Linked DNA regions of Homo sapiens: all the other regions are linked to region 1. Evidence: fine-mapped expression QTL. A gene starts in region 1. Each other region holds a variant in brackets. All regions are shown on one strand. Distances are between the middles of the regions. Region 1 holds the start of AGAP3 (ArfGAP with GTPase domain, ankyrin repeat and PH domain 3). Region 2 overlaps AGAP3 (ArfGAP with GTPase domain, ankyrin repeat and PH domain 3). Region 3 holds the start of ATG9B (autophagy related 9B).

Region 1 (8,172 bases):
GCCCCTTCGCTCCCTGTCTCTCCTTTGATTGTCTGCTTTTCACTGTGCTAGATGCAACTGGGCCGCACAGTAGGAGCTAAATGAATGTATCTGGAACAAATGAAGCTTTCCCTGGCTACTAGCACCCACATGGTTATGCTCTTTTTCAGAATTGCTAGAACTCTTGCGAGCAAAGTCCTGCATAAGCAACCAGGCCCCCATGAGACACTCAGTCCCTAAACCAACGAATTGCCAGAGGGGCCTGGGCTGGCTCCAGATGCATGTCCCCGGCACCCATCCCAGACCCCCCCAGTCCTCATCTTTGAAGGGAACCTCAGCAGTGTGTGGTGCAGCAGGGCCCACGGCGGAATGCAGGGCCCGGCCAGGGAGTGCCCACCCAGGAACAGTAAGGAAAGCTCAAGAGAGCACCCTGGCACAAACATGGGGACCATCATGCCAGTCCTCCAGGATCAAGTCACAGGACGAACAGAAACAGACACAAACACTAAAACCCCAGGTGTGCCTAAGGGCTGAGGGCTGTGGGATGCCAGGGCGTATGCCGTTTTGTTTTGTTTTGTTTTTGTTTTTTTTTGAGACGGAGTCTTGCTCTGTTGCCCAGGCTGGAGTGCAGTGGTGCGATCTCAGCTCACTGCAAGCTCTGCCTCCCAGATTCACACCATTCTCCTGCCTCAGCCTCCCGAGTAGCTGGGACTACAGGTGCCCGCCACCACGCCCGGCTAATTTTTCGTATTTTTAGTAGAGACGGGGGTTTCACCATGTTAACCAGGATGGTCTCGATCTCCTGACCTCGTGATCCGCCCGCCTTGGTCTCCCAAAATGTTGGGATTACAGGCGTGAGCCACTGTACCCGGCCACATGCACCGTCTTACTCTCCCTCTGAGCTGCCACCCAACTGCAGTCACAGCTGTGGCCCCTTCTCTGTCTAGCTGAGGCTTGACCCAAACAAGAAACCCCCACATCTCTTTACCTTAGTCCCTTTAGGATGTCACCAAGCCCACAGCCCAGGGCAGGCAATCTGTGAACTGAATGAAAGTGAGTGGGGTAAGGGTGACAGTGAGAACGCTCTGCTGGCCAGGCCAGGCCGGCTGGAATGCTCGAAGTAACTGTTTAAAAAAAAAAAAAAAAAAAAAAAAAGCCCTAGTGGGAAAACGATGGAGAAACCTGAGTAAGTCACCCAGCTGACAAAGCCCAGCTCCGGCACACATAATAGTAGCCATATGGCACACACACCTAATAGTCAGGTCCACTTCCACTTCCAGGCGGGAGCCCCCCCCCCCCATCTGGGAACTGCCAGCAGGGATCCCAGGCCCTCCCCAAGCCCCTGCTCCTCCCCTGTGCCGGGCCCTCACCTGCACACAACGACTGGGACCAGCAGGTCCTGGAAAGATCCCGGGCTCCTTTGGGGCTCCTGGCTAGCTTGGTACAACATCCTGCGCTCCACGTGCCCAGTGTCCCCATTTGGACTGAGGCCCTCGTTCTCCTGCATCCCTCTTTCTAGGACTCAGCCAGGAAACCCAAGCTGTCAGGGAGCGCTCACTGCAGGTGAGTGCCAAGCCGGAAGCGGGCTCCTGTTGAAGGCCTATACTCTCCCTGGCTGTATCCGCTTGGCTCCCTCCCTTCTCTGAGCCTCAGTTTCCCCACTAGTGAGGTGAAGGTGGCTCAGAGGCTCTGCACATAGTGAGCCCTCCAGCTCTCCCTCCCAGCTGAAGGCTGTACTTCTTCCACTCCCTAAGGCCAAGTAATGGGCAGGTTTTCTCTTTCCTTGGCCTCTGGTGGGAAAGGAACTTTTCAAAATGGTCTCCCTCTCCTCAAATCCTGTCCTGAAACACAGGAAAGCCAAACATCCCCTGCTTCCTCCTGTCCTGGACACGGGGTCAGAAGTGACTGTGAGTGGCAGAGACTACAGGAGGCCCAAGTGCCCACTGCACTTCCTCAGAGCCAGATGGATCCTGACCGCAGGTCCCACGTCACCTTCAGAGCTGGGACAAACAAACCCTTCACCGAAGTCTAAACAGAGTGAGGGAGGCTTTGTTATACACTCGGAACTGCCGCCCCTTTCCACCGAGAGGCTTAGCCCCAGGAAACACAGGACCCGGCTCCCAGCTGACACTGTGTTTATGTAACAGCCTAGGTCTGTTCCGCCCTGGGGCTGGGGGTGGAGGGCTGGGTCTCAGTCCAGCCTCAGACTGTGCTCGGAAACGCCCAGGGAGTCTGCGCCTCTCCCTCCTCGCAGAAAGAAGGTGGGGACACCGCTTCGCAGGACAGAAGCAATATGGTTTGGCAGATGGAGAGGAGTTCTATCGCAGGAAGGATATAGGGCAGAAACTGGAGAAGGAGTGGTTTTTTTTTTCTTTTGAAGACTGCCTACAGCAGAAAAGTGGGAACGCAAGACGGGTGAGGTGGATAAAGATGACGGTGCCAGGAGAGGCTGGGCAGGGGGGAGGGAGGGACAGCAGGGCAGCAGGGCAGCAGGGCCCAGGAGTGGGAACAGCAGGGCTGAGAACGGATGTGTGAGCCGCGGCTGGGTCGGTCTGGTGACAGTGAGACACCGGCTCCCGGGATTTCACGAGGGTGAGGCCGAGCTTCCAGGCCTAGTAGACGGAACCATGGGGTATTTCCAAACCGCAATGGAGAAGTCGGTCAGGGGAGGGCTCTAGGAGGGGAAATTCTGCCTGTTGTGTTAAATTTAAGATCAGGCAAAAAAAACTCAAGGGCGCCCCAGGAATCAGCCTTCACATCACAAAAGATGCTCAACCAGAGGCTCCCCTGAGCTGGGGAGGAGGGGTCGCTGCTCATCAAGCTGGAGCCAGGGGAGCCCGGAAACCTCTCCCTGCTCTGGGAAAAGCTCGGAAGCAGATGTGCCCCCACCCTCCTGTGGCCGGCCCACGAGGCTTGTCGCCCTCCAGAAGGAGCTGGGGGAAGGTAAGCTTGGAGCAAATCAGGAATGTCTTTACTTCCTCCAAGGACAGTGAAGCTGCAGCAACGATGTCTCTCCCGCCTCCACCCTCTTCAGATCTAAGAGGAAAAATTGGTCATCTCCTGTCTTTGGGGCCCAGGGCTCGCACAAATGCCATCTCCTAGTCCCCAGCCACAGCGGTGATTCAGGCCATTTACTCAGATCCACGTTAATGAGTTTTTTCTGTCACCTAATTAGTTCACAGAGAACTCAGCCTTGAGAGGAAAGAAATAAGAACGGGTTGGGAAAAGGCAGAAGGAAGTCAGACTGGCATGTCACAACAAAAGATAGAACCCAGCACCACATGGGGTCCCCCCAGACCCAGTACTTCTTCCCCGGCTATGGGGACCTCTGAAAGCAGAAAGGGAGGTGTTCAGGTGCACTATCCCCCAGAACCTCAGGCAAGCAGATGAAGCTGGGAGTGGGGCCCTAACCTTAAGGCCCAAGTCAGGGACAGGCCCCTGCCCATAACTCCATGTTATCGCAAAAGGCCTTGGCTCTCACTGCATTTCCACTGAGGCCAAACCCACCACCTGCCGGTGGGCGTCCCCTTTCAAACAGAGCTGGGGGAGGAAGCAGATGGCCCAGGGTGAGGCCCATCTGTCCGTGCCCGCTCGAAGGTCACCATGCCACCGGGGTGCCTGCGGGTGCCTCCAGCACCCACCACACCAGGGCTTGCGAGGCATCTGCCAGCAGCGTGCCACCACTTCCTGTGCCCTCAGCGGTCGAAAGTCCAGGGCCTAAGGGCCCAGAGAAAAAAGCGCTAGGCAGCGCAGTGGCCGGGGGTTTCCGGTCCCCGACTCCGGGTGCGGTGTCCCTGGCGGTCGGTCAGCACCCGGCTGCCCAGCAGCTGCCTCCAGACCGAGGAGCCGCGGATCCCCGTCAGGCTCATGACCCGGCCAAAGCGCGGATGGACCTGCCGGCGCCTCCCACGCGGTCGCTGAGCCTCAGCCCAGCGCCAGGCCCGGCCCGCTCCCGCTTGGCCGCCGCGGCGTAGGGGGTGTGCGTCGGGAGAGGGCGCCGCGGCGAGCGCCACCCTCCGGGCCTGCGGGCGCTGGGCCCGGGAAGGCTGCCATCCACTAACGCGAGGCTCCGATCCCCCGCCCCACTGCGGAGCAGGGCCCGGGCAGCGGCTAAGAAGCCTCCCCGGTCACGACCCCACCTCCCCGCAGCTGAAGCCCTCTGCCGCGCCCACCTTCCCCGGCCAGGCCTGGACAGATCTGGTCCCGGCCCCCCCAAGCGACACCACCTTCGCGCCCTGGAACACAGTCAGCAGAAAACCCCCAACCCCAAAGTGTCCCCGAACGAGATATGGCGAAGCTGCCCGCCGGTTCTGCAACACAGATCGGCAAACCTCGTGGCCTGGTCCTCAAGCGCGCAAGGACCCCCGACAGGGAGAGCATGGCCAGGCACGGCCTGTGGAGCCCTCGGCCGGCGCCGGAGAGGCCACTGCGCCCCGGCTCCCGCAGCCCCCGGCTCCGCTCACCCTCGATGGAGATGACGTGCTCCCGGATCTGGTTCTGCAGCGCCAAATCCTCGATGCGCTCGATCAGGTCGTAGATGGCGTAGATATTGGGATGCACGGACTCGAAGCGCTGGATCTCGGCCCGGATGGCCGCGGAGTTGGAGAGCGCGAACTGCTGGGGGGGCCCGCCGGCCAGCTGCTGCGAGGGGCCGCCGCCGCCCCCGGCCCCGGGCCCCGCGCCGCCGAACTGCCCGCCGCAGACGAGCTGCTGCGCGGCAGCGCCGCCGCCCCCCGGAGCCGCCAGGCTCTGCTGCTGCTGCGGGCTCTGCCCCCCGCCCGCCTGGAAGTTCATGGCTTCGGAGCCGTGGGGCCCGAGGCGGGCCCGGGGCGGCGCGGCGGAGGCGGCGGCGGCGGCGGCGGCGGCAGCGGCGAGCGGGAGCGCGGGGCTGGCGGGGCCGGGACTACTGGGCTGGCGGCGCGGGGCTAGCGCATGGAGCCGGGGGCCGGGGGCCGGAGGCCGAGGCCAGGAGGCGCCGCCGCGCACGCTGTGGCCGCCGCTGCCGAGCGCTTCCCAGCGCCGTGATCCCGCTGCCTCGGAGCAGCCTCCAGCGGCAACAACAACGGGACCGGGAGCGCGCGGCCCAGGCCCTCCCCCCGCGTCATGCGCACGCACCGCCGCCCCCGCCGGCTCCGGCACACGCAGCCCGAGCCCCCCTCCCCGCCGCCCCCGCCCCTCCTGCGCGCCGGCCCGGGCGCCCCCGCCCCTCGCTCGCTCGCTGGCTCTGCAGCCTCCACCCCCGAGCCGCGCGCTCCAGCCCTGGCGCCCCGGCCCCTCCCACTCAGCCTCGGCCCTTCCGCCTCCTCACCAGCCCCCACCCGCATTGCCTCGAGGGCCACCCTCGCGGAGGGGACAGCTGCCCTGGTCTCCTCCCGCGCCCGGCTGTCGCTTTCGCCTCCCTGCGCTGATCTGGGCGGGGTGTCGGATCTCTAGGCAATGCCCAAACAGTGCCCTGCGCCTGAGGGTGCTGCTGACCGAGGCTGATTGGCCGAGGAGTCCGCCCAGGCCCAGCTGCTCCTCGCTTACAGCGTCCCGCCTTCAGTGCGGCATAGGCTCCCCTGTCCCCAGGCTCCGAGGTCAGCCCTAGAGACCACCCTGCTGCCGGAGTTTTCTCCCTGTCTCCCTGCCCAGGCTCTCCACTGCCGGCTGCAGCAGTGCTCTCCTAAAAGACCCTCCCCCTGCCGGACTTGGGAGATTAGCTAAATGCTACCCGACCCCATTGGTACATAGAGGAAGAAGAGGGAGGGATGAAATAGTATATGCCTTTCTCCCCTACTCATCCCATTGGAGAGACCAACCAAAGCCCACGTGGCTCTCAATTTTTCTTGTCCTCACCCCTTGTCCATCCTGTCCTTTCACTCCCTCTAGGGCCAGGGAGCTCCCTGAAATGTCCCAGTTCCTCTGCAGTCCCATTGCCAAAGTGGGCTGCAGTTCTGTTAGCCCCCTCCCCCCCACCAACACACACACGTTTCCTAAAACCTACAAGAGGTGACATTTGCAGAGGCCGCAGCCAATAAATCTGCCAGAGATGTTGCAGGGTATCTGCTACCCCCAGATATCCTAGGGCATCAGTGACACACATCGTCCTTCTTACGCACACTTCCACTTCCCTGGCCAAGCTGGATCTTTTCCCAGCATGAAGCTGTCCACTGTTTGATTACCCACACAACTCAGCCCCAGAACCAACCCAGTCACTATTCCCGAGTTCCTTGTACCTTCCAAAGCACCTGGTGCAAGCTAATCAACACACAGGGTCTCCTAAGCTCCTGAGGAACCTGTGTTTCTATCTCCCTGCATAAGCTTAAGGATATCTTGTGCCCTCTCTGGGTTTCATCTGCGAAATATAGTGGTTGAACATAAAACCTAGTTCTGATGTTGTATAATTCTAAAAGTAACATCCAACATCTCTTTTAGGTGCTTAATTAGAATTGACAGCAGGAAGTAGCACCAGGTATACCTCCCAAGAGAGACACTAAGAGCAAAGAGCTCCTCAAATGTGTTGCCCCAGCAACTAGCACACACGTGTTATAGCACTGTTGGGCTGTTCACACGTCTAGCTCTTCTACTAGTATATGGAGCCACATGAGGGCAGGAAGAGGGTCTGATTCACCATTTTATTCCCAGTATCTTGCACAATGCCTGGGATATAGTGTGTGTGTGTGTGTGTGTGTGTGTGTGTGTGTGTGTGTGTGTAATTTTTTTTGAGACGGAGTCTCACTCTGTCACCCAGGCTGGAGTGCAGTGACTCGATCTCAGCTCACTGCAACCTCCACCTCCCGCATTCAAATGATTCTCCTGCCTCAGCCTCCCGAGTAGCTGGGATTACAGGCGCCCGCCACCACGCCCAGCTAATTTTTGTATTTTTTTTTGTAGAGACAGGGTTTTACCATGTTGGCCAGGCTGGTCTCGAACTCAGTGATCCGCCTGCCTTGGCTCCCAAAGTGCCAGGATTACAGGCGTGAGCCACTGCGCCTGGCCATAGTACATCTTTTAAAAAATATGTTAGTAGAATAAATGAATGAACAGGAGGGATGGAACTAGAGGTAGGTTAGTTCTGTATGGTATCAATCTAGACTGACATTCCTAAGGCAATATTTGGGCCACTTGCTCCCACAGTAGGCAAGAACCATGGGAAGACTAGGATAGATTATTTTAAATCAAGACTGGCCTGTAAAAACCAGGATGTGAGATCTCTGTGGCTACAGGAGCCCAGAGGGAAAAATCCAGATATCCACAGGCCTGGGATTCAATGCCATCCACACAGTAACACACCAAAGACCCGACTCCTGAGACCAGGTTTGGGTGGAGGTGAGCGAATAGCTACTGTGTGACATGTACCTTAGTTTTTACACTTTTTAATAAAACATCTAATTTCTTCCTTATGATTGACTTACGAGGTGTGTTTTAGAGAGGAAGAAATTAATGTTCAGAGAGATTCAATAACCCACCCAAGGTCATATAGCTGAGAAGCACAAGATAAGGGATCAGGATTTCTGCCAGGTTCCAAGGTCTATGCTTCTTCCACAGCCCTGAAGGGGCTGTGGAGTCCCGAAGGTGGAGGAGGGGACCAAGGAAAGGGGCAGCCCTGAGGATGGGTATCCCTAGCCAGCCTGGTGGGGCAGCCCATGGATATTGGGCTCTGGGCTGAAGAATTAATTTTGGTGGCCAAAGTGCCTTCTGGCGTCCACTCTGACATAACAGTAGGGGCCACCTGAGTTCCTCAGAGCCTTCCACACTGCATCACGAACACGGGTACTCTGACGTGCTCCAGCTGACGTCGGTGTCTGGTGTGATAGATGCCCTGGCTGTTGGCAGGGGAGGGGGCGGACGCTGCTGCCGCCCAAACCTCTAGGGGGTAGCACAACCCCCAAAACCGCCCCCGCCAGCCCCTTCGCGATCTGCAGGCGCAGAGAACCGCGGGTGGAGCCCCACACGTGGGTCCGCAGGGCGGAGGGCGGGGACAGCGCGGCGCCGGACTACAAGTTCCACAATGCCCCGGGCCGCGGCGGCGGGGAAGGAGGGGTGCTTCAGGTGCCTGCGACCTCCGCGCCTCCCGCCCGGAAGTGCCCGAGGGGCCGCGATGGAGCTGGGGGAGCCGGGCGGTGAGTCCCCGCGCCGTGACCGCGCCCACCCCGCCGCCCAGGGCCCCGGTCGGGCCGGGATCGCCGTGCCCTCCTGCGGCTTCGGGGGGCG
Region 2 (8,172 bases), 24 kb before region 1:
CCGGCGCCTCGGCGGCCGCCAGCTCCAGGCGGTTCACCTCCAGGAAAGTCATGCTGGCCGGCCGGGGCCGCGGAGTCGGCTCCCCGCGGGTGCGGCTGCGCCGGGTCGGCGCGGGGCTGGACGCGGGGCTGGGCGCAGGCGAGACGGGCGGTCCCGAGGGCGCCAGGCCCCGGCGGCCGAGGCGCGGGCGCAGGAGGCCGAGCAAAAGGCCGCGGGCGCCGGTGGGCGGCGGCTCCGGGCCGCCCGAGCACACGCTCCGCGGCCGCGCCGGCTGCTCACTGGCGGCGCAGAGGGCGGCCTGCAGGGCGGCGGCAGCGCGGCCGGCCGAGGCGCCGTGCAGGTCCAGCGAGTCGCAGACGCTGTGGGCGCGGCGGCAAGCGGCGGGCCGCTCCCCGGGACAGCTGTCCCCCTGCGGCCAGCCCCGCTCCATGCTCAGGGCCGGCGGGCGCGGGCCAGGCCCATGGCGAGGGGCACGGGGCTGGGCCCGGGCCGGGGCCGCGGCCGGGGCGCACGGACCTCCGGCCTCTGGGCACCTGGTGTGGGCCGACCGAGTCCCTCAACTCCTCCACCTCGCGGCCGGCAAGCCCAGACCTGGAGAGGCCGGGAGTCAGCCCAGCCCGGAGAGAGAGGCGGCAAGTCTGGCCTGGAACGCCCGGGAACGGCGGCGCGGCGCGGGGGAGCCGGCCTGCTGGGGCAGCCCCTGGGAGCCCTCGAAAACAGGAAATTCCAGCCCAGGGCGCCTCCTAGGATCCGGCAGGTAGGTGAGGAGCTGTCATTACGAGCAGGCCAACTAAATAACAGTCCTCAGTCCACCACACACTGGGCCCCATTTTGGAGAAAAGCGGGCCATTTCTCATTCTTCAAAGGAAGAGCCAGAAGAGCCAAGAACATGAGGCCCAGAAGTATGACAAGCCTGAGTGAGACGTCAGAGGCAGCCATGCCGGGTCTGCGCGCGTGTCCTCGTCTGCAGCACGCGAGCTTCAACGAGGTGGTCCTGTCTTAGTTTCGGCTCTGACATTCTGAGGTCGAGAGTTGCTGGCTGCTACAGTCGGTTTCTGTTGATGACTGAGGCTGTCTTCTTTGGAGATTATAAAATCCAGAAGATACTCATCTGTCTGGACTGAGTTAAGCGTCCTGCCTAAGGGCAGCAGAGAAGTCAAAGATAACCTCCGCTGCAGTTCTGGGTGAGTGACTCACTTCTGAGGCCCGGACCTCTCCAGGCCCCTGCTGCTCACTGGGTCTCACCTCCTGTCGGGATGATGGGCTGAGATCAAGTGGTAGCCTGCGGTACTGGCTCCAGCCTGACGTTCTGTAAATGAAAACACTCCTCCAAGCTCCGAGGCCCTTCCAATTCATGACTGTGGGCTGCCTGGACACCCAGTAAACCCAGAGCTCACCCAGAATTGGAGGCAAGAGCTCCCCGGCTGTGATTGACACTGCATTGTAAACATCAGTCCTCTCCCAGGCTCTGAAGCCCAGCCAGTTTCCGGTCATCCATAAAGTCAGAAACCACTGGCTGCCTCAATACCAGCCACGGATCAGGAGAAACCAGTTTAAGTAGTGGCAAGGGACCAGGGGCTTGCATTTCCTTTAAAAAGACAATACTGCCCACTTTCCTCCACCCCCAGTCCAGCCCAACTCCCAGCGTCCCTTTCAGCTTTAGAATTCCATGGACCTGGTCAGAGCCAAGTGGGAGATACAAGTGGCACATTCCTGAGGGGCTGAGTGGGAATGCCTAAGGAAGGCAGGGCCTCTCCATCCTAGGTGCTCCCTGCAGAAAAGAGCGCTGGAAATTCCCAAGTCCTGGGCTGGATCTCCCAGGCCTGGAGAGGCCCTGGTGGTGAGTTTGTATTTCCGTGGGACTAGTTATTAGCGTTGGTGAAGACGGCTTCTTCCTGTATGGGATGCATGTTCCCCCCACAATGGAAGTACCAGCAGAGGGGCCCTTCCCAGGTCCCCAGGCAGGTACAGAGACAAGAACACAACTCAGTGAAGCCGGCCAACGTCACTGAGCTGCAGATCAAAAGGAAACACATTCTGCCTTGACTTCCCTATCTACGTGTATCTGCCCTCTCTCTCACGCACAACAGGGAATGGCTGTTCTGCCAAAGAATAAGGCTGCCCACTCACAAGCTCATCCTGCAAGCCAGTGAAAATGCAAGCAAAGGGTCGGGCGCGGTGGCTCACACCTGTAATCCCAACACTTTGGGAGGCTGAGGCAGGCGGATCACCTGAGGTCAGGAGTCCGAGACCAGCCTGGCCAACGTAGTGAAACCCCATCTCTACTAAAAATACAAAAAATTAGGCACCGTGTCTCGCGCCTGTAATCCCAGCGCTTTGGGAGGCCGAGGCAGGCAGATCACTTGAGTCCAGGAGTTGGAGACCAGCCTGGGCAACATGGTGAAACCCCGTCTCTACAAAAAAAATATGAAAAATTAGCCAGGCATGGTGGCACGAGCCTGTGGTCCCAGCTACTTGAGAGGCTGACGTGGGAGGATCGCTTGAGCCCAGAGGGTCCAGGTTGCCGTGAGCCAAGATGGAGCCACTGCATTCCAGCCTGGGCCACAGAGTGAGACCCTGTCTCAATAAATAAGAAGCAAGCACAGGACAGCAGCTATGGGAGCCGACCTCTGGAGACGGAGAGGGGATGGGGACACGGTATCCGACAGGGGATGGATCACTTTAGAACCTAGCTGCCTCTTTCAGTGGGAGAACAGTAGGATGGGAAAGAAGGGGGTTAAGGCCCCAGCTGCACACATGCTGGACACACACACACACACACACACACACACACACACACACACGTCTCGGGGAAGGCAGGCAGCAATCCCAGTCCCCAAAAGAACATCTTACAGTCTCAGAAGACATGTAGTCCCACTGCACCTGCAGAATCAGTCCAAGGAGAAAGTGCCACCTGGGTCAACTCCCAAACCCAGAACAGCTTTCTCTTCCTCACCTGGCTGCCCTCTCCTTCCCAGTCCTTTTCCCCAGAAAACTTTCCTGACCCGGAGAAACTAGACAGGGAAGGGCACCTGCTCCCACATAAATGTCTCAGGACATCAAGCCAGTCAAAGACCCCGAAAAGGAGAACAGCTGCAGGCACACACCTCTTTTGCTCATTGG[G/T]TCAGCCCAGGGTCAGAGATAAGGTCTCTGTTGTGCCTGATAAGATTCTGCTCCAAAGACACGCAGCAAACACAGCTGTGCTCGACACAGACAGCCACTACCTACTGGGCCCGAAGGAAATTAGGACAAACCTAAAAAGCTCCAGGCTGGGACTACACGAACAGTACTGAAATCCCACAACACAAGCCCTCACGTCAGTTCTCTGTTTATTAAGGCCACCGGAAACGCTGGACTGAATGTGACTCTCAGGGGCTGAGAGGCTCCATGGCAGTTTCTGGGGGACTAAGAGGAAATCTCTCACAAATGCCCGCAGTGTGCATCCTGGGGCAGGACGAACACAGCCTGCCCCGGAGCCAGAGAGCGCAGAAGCCGGGCTCAAGACCCCCTTCTGTGGACTACCTGGATGTCAGGAGGAGAAGCCGACTCTAGTTATGCCCAGTTTCTGTGCTGGCCTGGGCCTCGGGTGCCCTGCTTGCGTGTGCACAGGGGGGTGAGGGGCCGGGGGGGTCATGACGGGGAGAGAGAACACCCCTGGGCAGGTGTGAGGTGTGAGACCCTGCCAGAAAGAGAAAGCTGGTCCTGAGGATGTGGGAACTGGTCGCCTCCAGGTGTGTGTTGCTTGATCCACTGGTGAGCCCTGGCTGTGCCCGCTGCAGCCCACGTGGCCCACAGGGAGTTGGCAGATTTCTTTCGAGGAGATGAGGGAGGATGGATAAGCCTTCTCCTGAAAGCCGGAGCTTGTGGCCAGCTCCGCAGGGTGTGGAGCAGAACCACCAGCAGCCAGGTGTGGTCCCAGAACCACCGTGGCCCTCCCAAACAGTCAGGCCCTTCTTGCCCACAAGGTGGCAGCAAAACATCTTCCTGCAGCCGGGGCTGAGGCAGTGGCTGGGAAGGCTGGCAGGATGCTAGGGCTGGCCACACACCCGCCACTGAGCCCGGGAGGCAGTGGGGGCCACACCAAGACCCCTTCGCCCCCCAGGACTGGCTGGTGTCCAGCAGGCTCTCCAAGTTGGAGCTTAGGGAATCAGAGGAGAAGACGGGGGGCGGGGGGAGAGCGCTCAGGATGCCTCCCCAGTGGGGCCACAGTCCTCCCTAAGTGTCCCAGCAGCTGTCCCGAGACAACTCGAGTTGCTGCAGCAGCAGCCATGGACCTAAATTCCACCCCTAACAGCTCCATTCCAGCATCCCCCATTTTCAACAGCACCACATGAGCTCTGGAGCCGCACAAGCCAAAAGCCTGCTAGTAACACCCTCCATTCCCTTCCTTACCACTCCCCCAGCCCAATCCGTGTCAGTCCTGGTGGCGCTCCCTCCTAAATGTGGCCCAGATCCATCACCAGCTCCTTTCTTCAACTCAAAGGCAAGCCACCATCCTCCCGGGCCTAAGCACCACATCAGCTTCCTAGGGGTCTCCCATCTCCAGCCTCCATCACCACCACTGCCAAGTGATTTCCTTTACAGCTGGGGCGGACCTCTTCAGACCAGAACCTGGTCACCTCTCAGCAAAGCCCTGCAATGGCTCTCCAGCTGGCGTAGAATGGCACCCAATCCCCTTATTCTGTTCCAGTGCCCCGTGTGCTCCTGACTACCTGCTTGCTCTCACCTGACACCCTCCCCAGGACCCGCCTCCATCCCCATCCAGCCTTGACACCTCCCGGGCCTCTGCCCTGCTTGTCCCTGAAGGCATTTGGACCGTGGCTGAAGCATCCCTTCCTTGGGAGGCTGACCATCTCAGTGACCATGCTAACATCATCTAACACTTGCCACTGTCAGCAAGTGCCCCCACAACAGAACTCTGCCAGGCACATGAAGGTGGCCATGATTCCCCGAGTGAATGAGTGGAAGTCTTTGCTGAGCATGCACTGTGCTCCCAGGGCTTTTGGCCTCTTTGTGGGGAGGAAGGCCTAAGAGAGATGGGCCCTGGCTGGGCCAGTCTTTTGAGAGAAGTCACAGGCACAGGCAAAATAATCTGCACAGGCCCCAAGTTGAAAGGCACGGCGCACCCTGGAGTTGAGAAAGCTGGATTCAAGTTCAGCCTCTGGCACCTATTGGTGGGTGACCAGCCACGGTCTCCTTAACCTCAGGTCTGTCTGTAAATTAGGAATGGCCCAGCTTCCAGCTAAAGGTGCTGTGCAGGCCAGCCCTGTGAGCATGGAGGGCCGCATGGTGCCTGGCGTGCAGCGGGCAAGCAACAGAAGGAGCTGCTCCTATTGCGCAAGGGAGAGCCAGAGTGGACGCTGGGATCACTGAAACCAGCCCTCTCCACATCAGAAAGCCAGGCAGATGCAGTCAGCCCATGAAACCTTAGCAGCTCCCCCTCAGCTTGGCTTTGATTCCTGGGCTGGTCCCTCCATCTCCCCTCTAAGAGACCTCAGAGATACGGAGGACCCTGGAGAGCCCTGAGTCCTAACCCCCAGGACCTCAGAATGTGACCTTATTTGGAAATAGGGTTGTTGCAGATGTAATTAAGATGAGGTCATACTTGAGTAGGGTGGGCCCTGAATCCAATCTGACTCGTGTCCTTATAAAAGGGGGGAATTTGGGCATGTCGACAGACACCAAGGGAAGTCAATGTGAAGAGATGCAGGGAGAAGACGGCATCGACAAGCCAGGAAGAGAGGTGTGGGGCGGATCTCTCCCTAGTGCCTTCAGAGGGGGCGTGGCCTTGCCCACACCTTTATCTCAGACATCTGGCCTCCACAACTGTGACACAGTAAACTTTTTGGTTTTTGAGACAGGGTCTCCCTCTGTTAACCAGGCAATCACAGCTCACTGCAGCCTCGACTTCCTAAGCTCAAGCAATCCTCCTGCCTCGGCCTCCCAAGTAGCTGGGACTTTAGGCATGCAACACCATGTCCAGCTATTTTTTCTTTGTTTTCTTTGTTTTTTGTTTTTTGTTTTTTTTTTTTTTTACAGAGGTGGGAGTCTCACTATGCTGCCTATGCTGGTCTAGAACTCCTGGGCTCAAGTGATCAACTGGCCTTGACCTTCCAAAGTGCTGGGATTACAGGCATGGGCCACCGCAGCCAGCTAGGAACAGACTTAGGTTGTTTCAAACCACCCTGTTTACAATGGTTTATTACCACAGCCCTAGGAAGCTATGAGCTCTCCAGAAAAGCTAGTGCATACTGGGAAGAACACACAGGTGTTTTCTGAGGAGGTCCGAGTCCCCTTAATCCCTGCCATGGGTTCCAGGTTCAGAACTCGTGTTCTGGTTCATCCTCTCCTTTTAGAGATGAGGGCATTGACACCCAGAGAGGGGAAGTCACTTGCCTGCAGTTACACAGCCCAGCAGTGACAGAGCCTGGGCAGGGCCCAGGACTCCAGAATCCCAGGCTGGAGCTTGGGCCTCTAAGTCATCATTTCACATTATTTTTTGAGTGCTTACTAAGTGCATTCAGGGCAAGCAGACTGAAGTCTCTGCCCCACCCTGCCTCAAGGTGACGCGGCTGGCAGTCTGGACTGGCGTAGGACCCAGCCTACATCCTTGGGACCCTCCGAAGGCTGCTCTGAGGCCCGGGGATTCTGCCCCATCTCCAGAGGTCAGGATGTCGGTCTGAGAGCTCCCCAGTGACTTTGGTCCTCTCCTCCCCAGGGAAAAGCTGAGGGAGAGAAGGCGGCAGAGGTGCTGGTGGGGGTGCGGGTGGCAGAGAGAGCCACAGGACCGAGAGCAGTGCAAGGAGCAGGGAAACTGAGATTACCCCAGGGTGGGGGTGGGAGTGGCTGTCATTCCAGCCGAAAATGGCCTTTCGACACCAGGCCGGTGACATGGCGGTATTGTAGTACTACAGATGGTACTTGAGAGCAGTTTGTTTTCCTGTCTATCCATGAGCTCTGTGCTGGGTGCAATGGTGGACAGGACAAAGGCCCTCCCCTCGAAGACTCGGTCCCTTAGCATGTCCCCCATCTGGCCTCCTGGCTTTGTCCCATCTGGCCATGTTCTAAGACCCTGGAAGTGCCCGTGACGCCACTCCAGCTCTGACCAGCAACAGCAACTGTGGGCTTAGCTCTGCTTTCTAGCAGCTCCTCCCTGGAGAGGAACGCGACCAGCATGTGCTGCACCCCCCGCATGGGCCGGTGCCGTGCCAGAGGATCCTACACCTCACAGCATCTCCAGCCCTCCCATGGCCTGAAGGGTGGGGGCAGGAGGTGGGCCACCACCACAGGGTGGGACGGTGGGGGCTCCAGACTCAGAATATGAAGCATCGTACGGCTCTATGCCGTGTTGCACCTTTTTCTCATAACTGACCCATCGCCTACACTTTCGACATTTAAAAATGTGGTTCTCTCTGAACAGGCAGGCCAGCTGCAGTCCCATGAGCTAGAGTTCTGCCTCTTCCAACCCAATGAGCCTCTAAAATGCATTCCAAGTATGAGATTCATTCCCTGTCAGCAGCACCATCCCTTCCACTTGCCTTTGTATTTTTTACAAAAGTAAAAAAAAAAAAATTTTTTTGAGACGGTCTCATTTTGTCACCCAGGCTGGAGTGCAATGGCGCCATCACAGCTCACTGCAGCCTTGACCTCCTGGGCTCAATCGATCCTCCCGCCTCAGCCTCCTAAGTAGCTGGGACTACAGGTGTGCCACCTCGCCCAGCTAGGTTTAGTATTTTTTTTGTAGAGACCGCTTTCACCATGTTGCCCAGGCTGGCCTCCCAACTCCTGAGCTCAAGCAATCTGCCTGCCTTGGCCTCCCAAAGTACTGGGATTACAGGCATGAGCCATCGTGCCTGGCCCCAAAAGCAAAAACTTTTTTTTTTTTTTTTTGAGCCGGAGTCTTGCTCTTGTCGCCCAGGCTGGAGTGCAATGGCACGATCTCAGCTCACTACAACCTCCGCCTCCCGGGTTCAAGTGATTCTCCTGCCTCAGCCTCCCGAGTAGCTGGGATTACAGGTGCGTGCCACCACATCCGGCTAAATTTTGTATTTTTAGTAGAGACGGGGTTTCACCATGTTGGCCAGGCTGGTCTCGAGCTCCTGACCTCAGGTGATCTACCTCCCTTGGCCCCCCAAAGTGCTGGGATTACAGGCGTGAGCCACCACGCCCGGC
Region 3 (8,172 bases), 60 kb after region 1:
CAGTCTTCATCTCATCCTTCCCCTGCTTTCAGGAAGGCCTGTGCCTTTTGCCTACATGAGGCCTTCTCCCACCCCATTCCAACTGCCAGGTTTTTATGTCTTGTTTTCCACTGTGTTCTTGTTTCTATTAGAAAGATAGAGACGCTTACTCTCCTTCTGCCTTGTGTAACTGTCCAGTTTTCCCATTACGCCATGTGTTTCTGAAAGGCAGGAAATTATATCTTAGACAGCACTGGCAGAACTCCGGTACATAATAGATGTTCCGCAAATGTTTATGCTTGTTGAGCACATGCATGCCCTCATTAGAGGTGCAGGACAATCTGACCTAACTACTACAGGGTTTTGCAAATGTTTAGACTTACTGTGGCCTACAGCAAGAAACATATCTTACTTGCAACCCAGTACAATGAACACATACATGCCACACAAAATGGAAATGCTTCACAAAATAACATTTTCTCTAATTCTTAACATGTATTCTGATTCTTTTCTTTTCTTTTCAAGACAGGGTCTCACTCTTTTGCCCCGGCTGGAGAGCAGTGGTGCTATGCTGGCTGACTGCAACCTCCACCTCCCAGGTTCAAGCGATTCTCCTGCCTCAGCCTCTCGAGTAGCTGGGACTACAGGCGCCCACCACCATGCCTGGTTAATTTTTGTATTTTTAGTACAGACAGGGCTTCACCATGTTGGCTAGGCTGGTCTTGAACTCCTGACCTCAAGTGATCTGCCTGCCCCGGCCCCTCAAAGTGCTGGGATTACAGGCGTGAGCCAACGCACCCGGCTAAGTTTTGTATGGGGTTTCACCATGTTGGCCGGGCTGGTCTTGAACTCCTGACCTCAAGTGATCTGCCTGCCTTGGCCCCCCAAAGTGCTGGGATTACAGGTGTGAGCCACTGTGCCTGGCCTACATTTACTTTTATTTATTTATTTGAGACGGAGTCTTGCTCTGTCATGCTGGAGCGCAATGGCACAATCTCGGCTCACTGCAACCTCTGCCTCCCAGGTTTGAGCAATTCTCCTGCCTCAGCCTCCCGAGTAGCTGGGACTACAGGTGCGTGCAACCACGCCTGGCTAATTTTTGTATTTTTAGCAGAGACGGGGTTTCACCACGTTGGCCAGGCTGGTCTTAAACTTCTGACCTCAGGTGATCGCCTGCCTTGGCCTCCCAAAGTGCTGGGATTACAGGCGTGAGCCACCGTGCCCAGCCTATATTTACTTTTAAATGGTCCTGACCAACTAAATGCATTTCATAATCTATTGAAAAATACTGACTAATGAACACATATATACTTGAATATTATTTTATGTCTTTCCTTGGGTTTCTCTCTGGTTTAAATAACATCAACACCCTTACTCTTTCCTAAGAACTGTTTTTAAACCTTTCAATAATTTAGCATGGTCTTTTTCCAGCTTCTTGCATTGTCTCCAAACTAAGACTCTAAGAAAGTCTTGGTCGTTGCCAAGAGCATGTGGATTACTTCCCAGTACCAAGACTTCCAGCTCCAGCTCGATCCAGCTCTTGCCCTCCATCAGTCAGATGGGCTTTCCAAATGACACAACTCCACATCCACCTGCCCTTGGGAATCTTCTATCTGTTTGGCCCCCAAGTAATTCACTCTAGGATTAGAAAGGATGGCCAGGTGAGGTGGCTCATGCCTGTAATCCCAGCACTTTGGGAGGCCGAGGCAGGCAGATCACCCGAGGTCAGGAGTTGAAGACCAGTCTGCCCACCAATATGATGAAACCCCGTCTCTACTAAAAATACAAACATTAGCCGGGTGTGGTGCACATCTGTAATCCCAGCTACTTGGGTGGCTGAAGCATGAGAATTGCTTGAACCCAGGAGGCAGAGGTTGCAGTCAGTCGAGACCATGCCACTGCACTCCAGCCTGGGTGACAGAGCGAGACTCTGTCTCAAAAAAAAAAAAAAAAGAAAAGAAAAGAAAAGAAAAGAAAAGAAAAAAAAAGGAATCAGTCCCTTCTCATAAAGCATTTACATTCGAGTTGTAGTTTCAGGGTCCTTGTTTGTTTCCCATCTGTCTGTCTGTCTGTCTCTCTCTCTCGACCAACCTGTGTAGAGTGTTTTGCGAAAAACACACATGTACAAGTTACTAGATTGACTCTTTTTTTTTTTTTTCTGAGGCAGAGTCTCACTCTATCACCCGGGCTGGAGTGCAGTGGCCATGATCTCAGCTCACTGCAACCTCCGCCTCCCGGGTTGAAGCGATTCTCCTGCCCCAGCCTTCCAAGTAGTTGGAATTACAGGCGCGTGCCACCAATCACGGCAAATTTTTGTATTTTTTAGTAGAGACGAGGTTTTGCCATGTTGGCCAGGCTGGTCTCGAACTCCTGGCCTTCCAAAGTGCTGGGATTACAGGAGCGAGCCACCGCGCCCGGCCTATTAGATTGGCTCTTTATCCCTGCTGAACATCTCTAGTTCTTCTTCGACTCACTTTGAATCCTGGAAGCACCACTACATTAAATGTCTCTTCATACTAATAAGAATTTTCGTCCAAATCGCGCAATCACCTCCAGGGCCAGGAAAGGGGACCCCCGGTCGGGAGTGCGGACTGGGCGTGGTCACTGACCCCGAGCGTCCCCTCCTTCTGGCTGACACGCGGCTGCAGACGCAGGAGCCTCCTGCTGGCGACTGGAGTGTCACTATAAATAATTGAGGCCAACACCCGCGGAGTGACATTCCACCCCGGTAGGCCTGGCCTACAGCTCCCAGCAAGCCTCGCGCAAGCTCGTGGACTCCATCTCCCGGCGGGCCGGCACTGCCCTGCCGGGCGGTCAATGGCCCGCTCTGAGTAGGTTTTTCCGTTTTTACCTGACAGCTGAGAATGTCTGGAAGCGGAGGGGCGGTAGCAGCCTGCCTGGGAATGGGCCACCCCGAATCCCGACCCGAAATAAATGCACCAGCATGCTGACGCGGTAAAACAGGAGCCGCCGGCAATAGCAGTTTCACCCTCATCCCACTGAGGGCTCTATGTTGGCTCCCGCCCCCATCCCGACAACCCCCTCGCGCCTTGGCGGTGATTGGTGAAAAGACACATCAATCTCACTTCAAGCTGTGATTGGAGGATATGTTGTCAGCCCCCTCCTTTTGGAACTGTGATTGGAGGGAATCGCCTATCCGCCCGCCCCCTGCTCTGGGCGGAGCCGAGCAGGAAGTGGGCCTGGCTTTTGCCAGGTGCTCCTGTGGGCTCCGGGTGACGTCCAAAGGGTGTGGCCCGACTGGCCCTCCAAGCTATGGAGTATCCATAGTAACGCGTCAGCCGCCGACCTCGGGCCATTTTCCCAAGGCTCCAGGATCTCTAGATGTCCCGTCGTCTCAAGGGCGTGTAGAACGCGGGTTTTGGGGGAGGAATGAACAAAAATCGACTGGGAGTTTTTTCAAAACACGTACATATGCCCTGCCACCCACCCCGCTCTCCTAGGTGCGTCAGAACTGCTGGGACATCTGTCACGTGAAGGGGTGGGTTGCCCCTCCACACCTGTGGGCGTTTCTCATTAGGTGGAAGGAGAGACTTGGAAAAGAAAGAGACAGAGAGACAAAGTATAGAGAAAGAAAAATGGGCCCAGGAGACCGGAGTTCAGTTTACGGAAGATCCACGCCGGCACCAGCCTCTGAGTTCCCTTAGTATTTATTGATCATTATCGGGTATGGCAGGATAATAGGATAATAGTGGAGAGAAGGTCAGAAGGTAAACACGTGAACAAACGTCTCTGCATCGTAAACAAGGTAAAAAAAAAAATGCTGTGCTTTTGATGTGCATACACATAAACATCACAATGCCTTAAGAAGCAGTATTGCTGCCAGCCTGTCCCACCTCCAGCCCTAAGGCGGTTTTCCCCTATCTCAGTAGAGATAGGCTTTACACCGAGACATTTCCATTGCCCAGGGACGAGCAGGAGACAGAAGCCTTTCTTTTATCTCAACTGCAAAGAGGCATTCCTTCCTCTTTTACTAATCCTCCTCAGTACAGACCCTTTATGGGTGTCGGGCTGGGGGACGGTCAGGTCTTTCCCTTCCCACGAGGCCATATTTCATCACATGGGGAGAAACCTTGGACAATACCTAGCTTTCCTAGGCAGAGGTCCCTGCAGCCTTCCTCAGTGTTTTGTGTCTGGGTACTTGAGATTAGGGAGTGGTTTGAGATTAGGGAGTGGTGATGACTCTTAAGAAGCATGCTGCCTTCAAGAATTTGTTTAACAAAGCACACCGTGCACAGCCCTTAATCCATTTAACCCTGAGTTGACACAGCACATGTTTCAGGGAGCACAGGGTTGGGGGTAGGGTTACAGATCAACAGCATCTCAAGGCAGAAGAATTTTTCTTAGTACAGAACAAAATGGAGTCTCCTATGTCTACTTCTTTCTACACAGACACAGGAACAATCTGATCTCTCTTTCTTTTCCCCACAGTCA[C/G]GTGTACTTGGGGAAGAACTCCCCCGGTGATTCTGACACTCTTGCCCTACGCCTCAGCCATTGAGAACTATTGGTATGGAGGGCCTGTAATTTATCAAGGCGCGGCCTCAGATCTGTCTGCCTCGCAGATACCTTCCTCACCCGGGTCAGAATGACTTGCCTCAGGCTCCTGCCAAAGAGTTTGCACCACTCGTTTCTTCCCTGTAATTACTTGTTTGCGTATTTGTCTCCCCACTGGGCTGCAGCTTCTTGGGTAGTGGCTCTGTTTTATTCATCTGTCCTCTTCCCTTCCAAATGCTTGGCAAGGAAAAGTGCCCTTTAAAATAAATCGACTTGAATTGGGAGTGGTGGTAGGGAGGCTGTCAATGAGAATGAATTCAGGGTGAAACTAGGTAGGACAATGTCCCAGGATTAGTTTGGGGTTGAGCTGGGGAGCTCTTGGTGTATGGGGGGGTCCTATTGTGACTATGGTGGAATAGCCACGATACTGAGTGACATTGGGCGAGTGAGGTGGGGGAGAGACTAGACAACACCCCACATAACCCATCTTGACAGATGTCTCAGAAAGATTATGGGAATTTCCTGGCCCCTCTGCAATGTGGGATTCCATTTTGCTACCTCTAGAAGGACAGGGTCTTGTTTTCATAGCTCTGCCTCCTACTCTGAGATAAAGGCATGCAAGACCTGAGCTACTACTACAATACCCCACACAGAAGGAGAAAATCAGGCACATCTGGATTCAAGTTTTGTGGGTGATTCCATGATTGCCTCCAGTGAACAATCTGGGAAGCACAGTGTCCATATCGCCATTTCAGGGGTACTGGCCCCAACATCAGCCCTTAGGCCTAAGCCCTAGAGACCTTGACACCTGGTGGCTGAGTCAGTATCTCAGTAATGGGCTTTAGAAGGAAACCTGGTGATTCAGGGCCTCAAGAATGGCGTTGGGCAAGCCACCAGACCAGCTGCCTGGGTCTCCTCCTCCTTGTTGAGGTGACAACAAGGAACTCAGTTCAGCTCCTCCCTGGGTATCCAAATTATCCTTCCAAGTCCCAGACTCACAGCTGTCCTCCCTTCTGATTCAGCCCTGATGCTTTTCAGGGGGTCCCAGAAGTGGGATCCGGACTTGAGAGAATGTCACAGTTGAAAATGATAAGGATGCAAACGGAATGGAACTTTCAGAGAACCCCAATTTTCTACTCTAAGTTCTCCAAACCAACTCTCAAATCCAAGATAGCTGCCTTTCCTTTCTTCACCTCCTCTTCTTAGTTTTCCCCAACTTGGCTGCAAAGTCAGCCTCCCCTCTTCTCTTCCTTAGCACCTCAGACCAATAAAACATGCAACCTTTTCTTATTCTTTTTAAAAAATTTATTTTTGACCAGGCGCAGTGGCTCACGCCTGTAATGCCAGCACTTTGGGAGGCCAAGGCGGGTGGATCACGAGGTCAGGAGTTCAAGACCAGCCTGGCCAACATGGTGAAACCCCATCTCTACTAAAAATACAAAAAATTAGCTGGGTGTGGTGGCACACACCTGTAGTCTCAGCTACTCAGGAGGCTGAAGCAGAAGAATCACTTGAACTTGGGAGGCGGAGGTTGCAGTGAGCCGAGATTGTGCCACTATACTCCAGTCTGGGTGACAGAGTGAGACTGCCTCAAAAAGAAAAAAAATTATTTTGTTTGTTTTTTAGATTTTGTAGAGATGGTGTTTCCCTAAGTTGCTCAGGCTGGTCTCGAACTCCTGGCCTCAAGTGATCCTCTCGCCCGGGCCTCCCAAAGTCCTGGGATTACGGGTGTAAGCCAACATGCCTGGCCCCTTTACTTCTTCTTTTCTGTTTTGGTCACAAAACATTTCTCTGTTGATCACTGTAGTGTGTGTGTGGAGGGAAGTGGGGGAGGTACACTCTTAAGAAATGAAATAGTTAACATCTTGGTCCTAAGATTTGTTGTAGAGATGGAGTCTTCTCATTCTGTTCCCCAGGCTGGTCTTGAACTCCTGGCCTCAAGCAATCCTCTTTCCTCGGCTTCCCAAAGTGCTGAGATTGATTACAAGTGTGAGGTACTGCGCCCTGCTACAATCCTTTAATAGGATGTTTTTGGGGGGGGTGGCAGGGGGCAGGATCTAGCTCACTGTAACCTATACTGTTCCAGTGTAACCTGCACCAAGCCATCCTCCCACCTCAGTCTCTTGAGTAGCTAGGAACACAAGCACACATCACCACACCTGGCTCTAACACGATTTTGCTTTTTGCTTTTGTCATTTTGGCTGCTGTTCTTTTTATCTTTCATTCATTCAAGGTCTGAAGATGGAGATAATAGGAATCTTCTCATCTCAATGTGCTCTTTGGCCCCTCCTCTTAAACTGATGCCCCTCTCAGGCCCTGAGGGATTTGGCCTCAGGTTGCCCTGGAAGGGGTGTGAGTGATCAGACAGGTGACTGAGAGCTGGGACGCCTGAGGCCTGCCTAGGCTGAGTCACCTAGTAATGTTGTTGTCATTGTTCCTGTTGAAGTCCCAGCTCAGTGTCACAGACCTTTGTGGAAGCAACAACAGCTCCCATCCTTCCAACCTTTCTGGAGAAGCCGTGGCCTGATGGTGAGCCGAATGGGCTGGGGGGGGAGAAGAAGGCGGCTGGGGCGGTGGGGAGATCTGGGGCCCGGATCGGTGCCCCTCCTCCCCATGCCACTGCCACCTCCTCCTCCTCCTTCATGCCGGGGACCTGGGGGAGGGAGGATCTCCATCTTCTCTCTGTCCCCTGCCCCTCATACAAGAAGCTCCCCCTCCTCATTTTCCCCTCCCACCGCAGGGCCCCCTTGCTCAGTGCTACAGGGGACAGGGGCTTCTCAGTCTTGCCACAGTGCTCTCCCTATCCCAGCCACCCCCCCAACACAGGCTCAACCTGCAATGACACCTGCCTCTGCATCTCCCTCCTGGGGATCCCACTCCACCCCACCCCTGGCCCCGGCAACCCCCACTCCCTCACAGCAGTGCCCCCAGGACTCTCCTGGGCTGCGGGTAGGCCCTTTGATCCCTGAACAGGATTATGAGCGGCTGGAGGACTGTGACCCTGAGGGGTCCCAAGACTCACCCATCCACGGGGAGGAGCAGCAACCCCTGCTTCATGTCCCTGAAGGGCTCCGAGGTATGTGTGTGGGTGTGGGTGGGAGAGGGTTAGTGGTGCCTGGGAGCTCCAGTACTTATCCCAGGCTGGGCCTCTGGCAGCGGGTTGAGAACGTGGAGAATTGATCACATGCCAGGGGCTGACACTCTCCCCTCTGTGCCCAGGCTCCTGGCATCACATCCAGAACCTGGACAGTTTCTTCACCAAGATATCCTTTGCGCTAGGCCTGCAGAGGTGGCATGGGAAGGTCCTCTTGGAGCTGGCACTGTTCTTGGCAGGGAGACTCCGTGAGGGCGTCATGGGTGGGAGACTTGTTGGGGCTGAGGGGAGGTGTCCTCAGGAGAGGCCCCCCGTGCCTCAGGCTTGTTCCTTGACACGCAGCCACATCTACAGCTACCACCAGCGGAATGGCTTTGCCTGCATCTTGCTGGAGGATGTCTTCCAGCTGGGGTGAGACGCTTAGCCCGGGCCCGGAACTCGGTCCCCTGGGCCCATGGCTTCCTTCTGTCATTTTGCTTCCTTAATTGTGCCAGCTGCTTCCATCCCATGCTTTCCCGAGCAGCCCAAGGGCTCAGCAGGGGCAGGGTCAGGGAGGATAACCATGGGCTGCTCTGGGGGCTGGGGCA

The links. PIP is the estimated chance that this variant, and not a neighbour inherited with it, causes the effect.
Region 2: its variant is fine-mapped to the expression of AGAP3 in pancreas (GTEx, PIP above 0.99).
Region 3: its variant is fine-mapped to the expression of AGAP3 in whole blood (INTERVAL, PIP above 0.99).

Annotation. Positions count from the first base shown.
Region 1 is chr7:151,083,343-151,091,514 of GRCh38, reverse strand. AGAP3 (ArfGAP with GTPase domain, ankyrin repeat and PH domain 3) reads right to left here and starts at 5,040. Exons shown (of 18, transcript NM_031946.7): 1 at 4,443-5,040. The coding sequence starts at 4,773. TMUB1 (transmembrane and ubiquitin like domain containing 1) reads left to right here and starts at 8,022. Exons shown (of 3, transcript NM_001136044.2): 1 at 8,022-8,081. It overlaps LOC124901778 (a long non-coding RNA gene), which reads right to left and starts at 2,512. Exons shown (of 2, transcript XR_007060595.1): 1 at 1,350-2,512. RefSeq lists enhancers at 1-335, 336-841, 967-1,476, 1,477-1,987, 3,485-3,644 and silencers at 3,865-4,134, 4,495-4,564, 4,931-5,020, 5,071-5,320, 7,869-8,172.
Region 2 is chr7:151,107,029-151,115,200 of GRCh38, reverse strand. The region is part of intron 1 of AGAP3 (ArfGAP with GTPase domain, ankyrin repeat and PH domain 3); the gene reads right to left. Among named protein-coding and RNA genes, the nearest start is that of AGAP3, 25 kb to the right of the region's middle. RefSeq lists an enhancer at 6,361-7,023. The variant G/T (reference allele first, on the strand shown) is at 3,124.
Region 3 is chr7:151,023,269-151,031,440 of GRCh38, reverse strand. It overlaps ATG9B (autophagy related 9B), which reads left to right and starts at 6,947. Exons shown (of 14, transcript NM_001317056.2): 1 at 6,947-7,567; 2 at 7,711-7,754; 3 at 7,932-7,996. The coding sequence starts at 7,018. ABCB8 (ATP binding cassette subfamily B member 8) reads right to left here and starts at 2,991. Exons shown (of 16, transcript NM_007188.5): 1 at 2,831-2,991. The coding sequence starts at 2,925. LOC124901777 (a long non-coding RNA gene) reads left to right here and starts at 3,183. Exons shown (of 3, transcript XR_007060593.1): 1 at 3,183-3,478; 2 at 4,429-4,634; 3 at 6,408-6,446. RefSeq lists enhancers at 1,804-2,407, 2,659-2,968, 2,408-3,012, 3,618-4,222, 4,223-4,826 and 1 more. The variant C/G (reference allele first, on the strand shown) is at 4,432.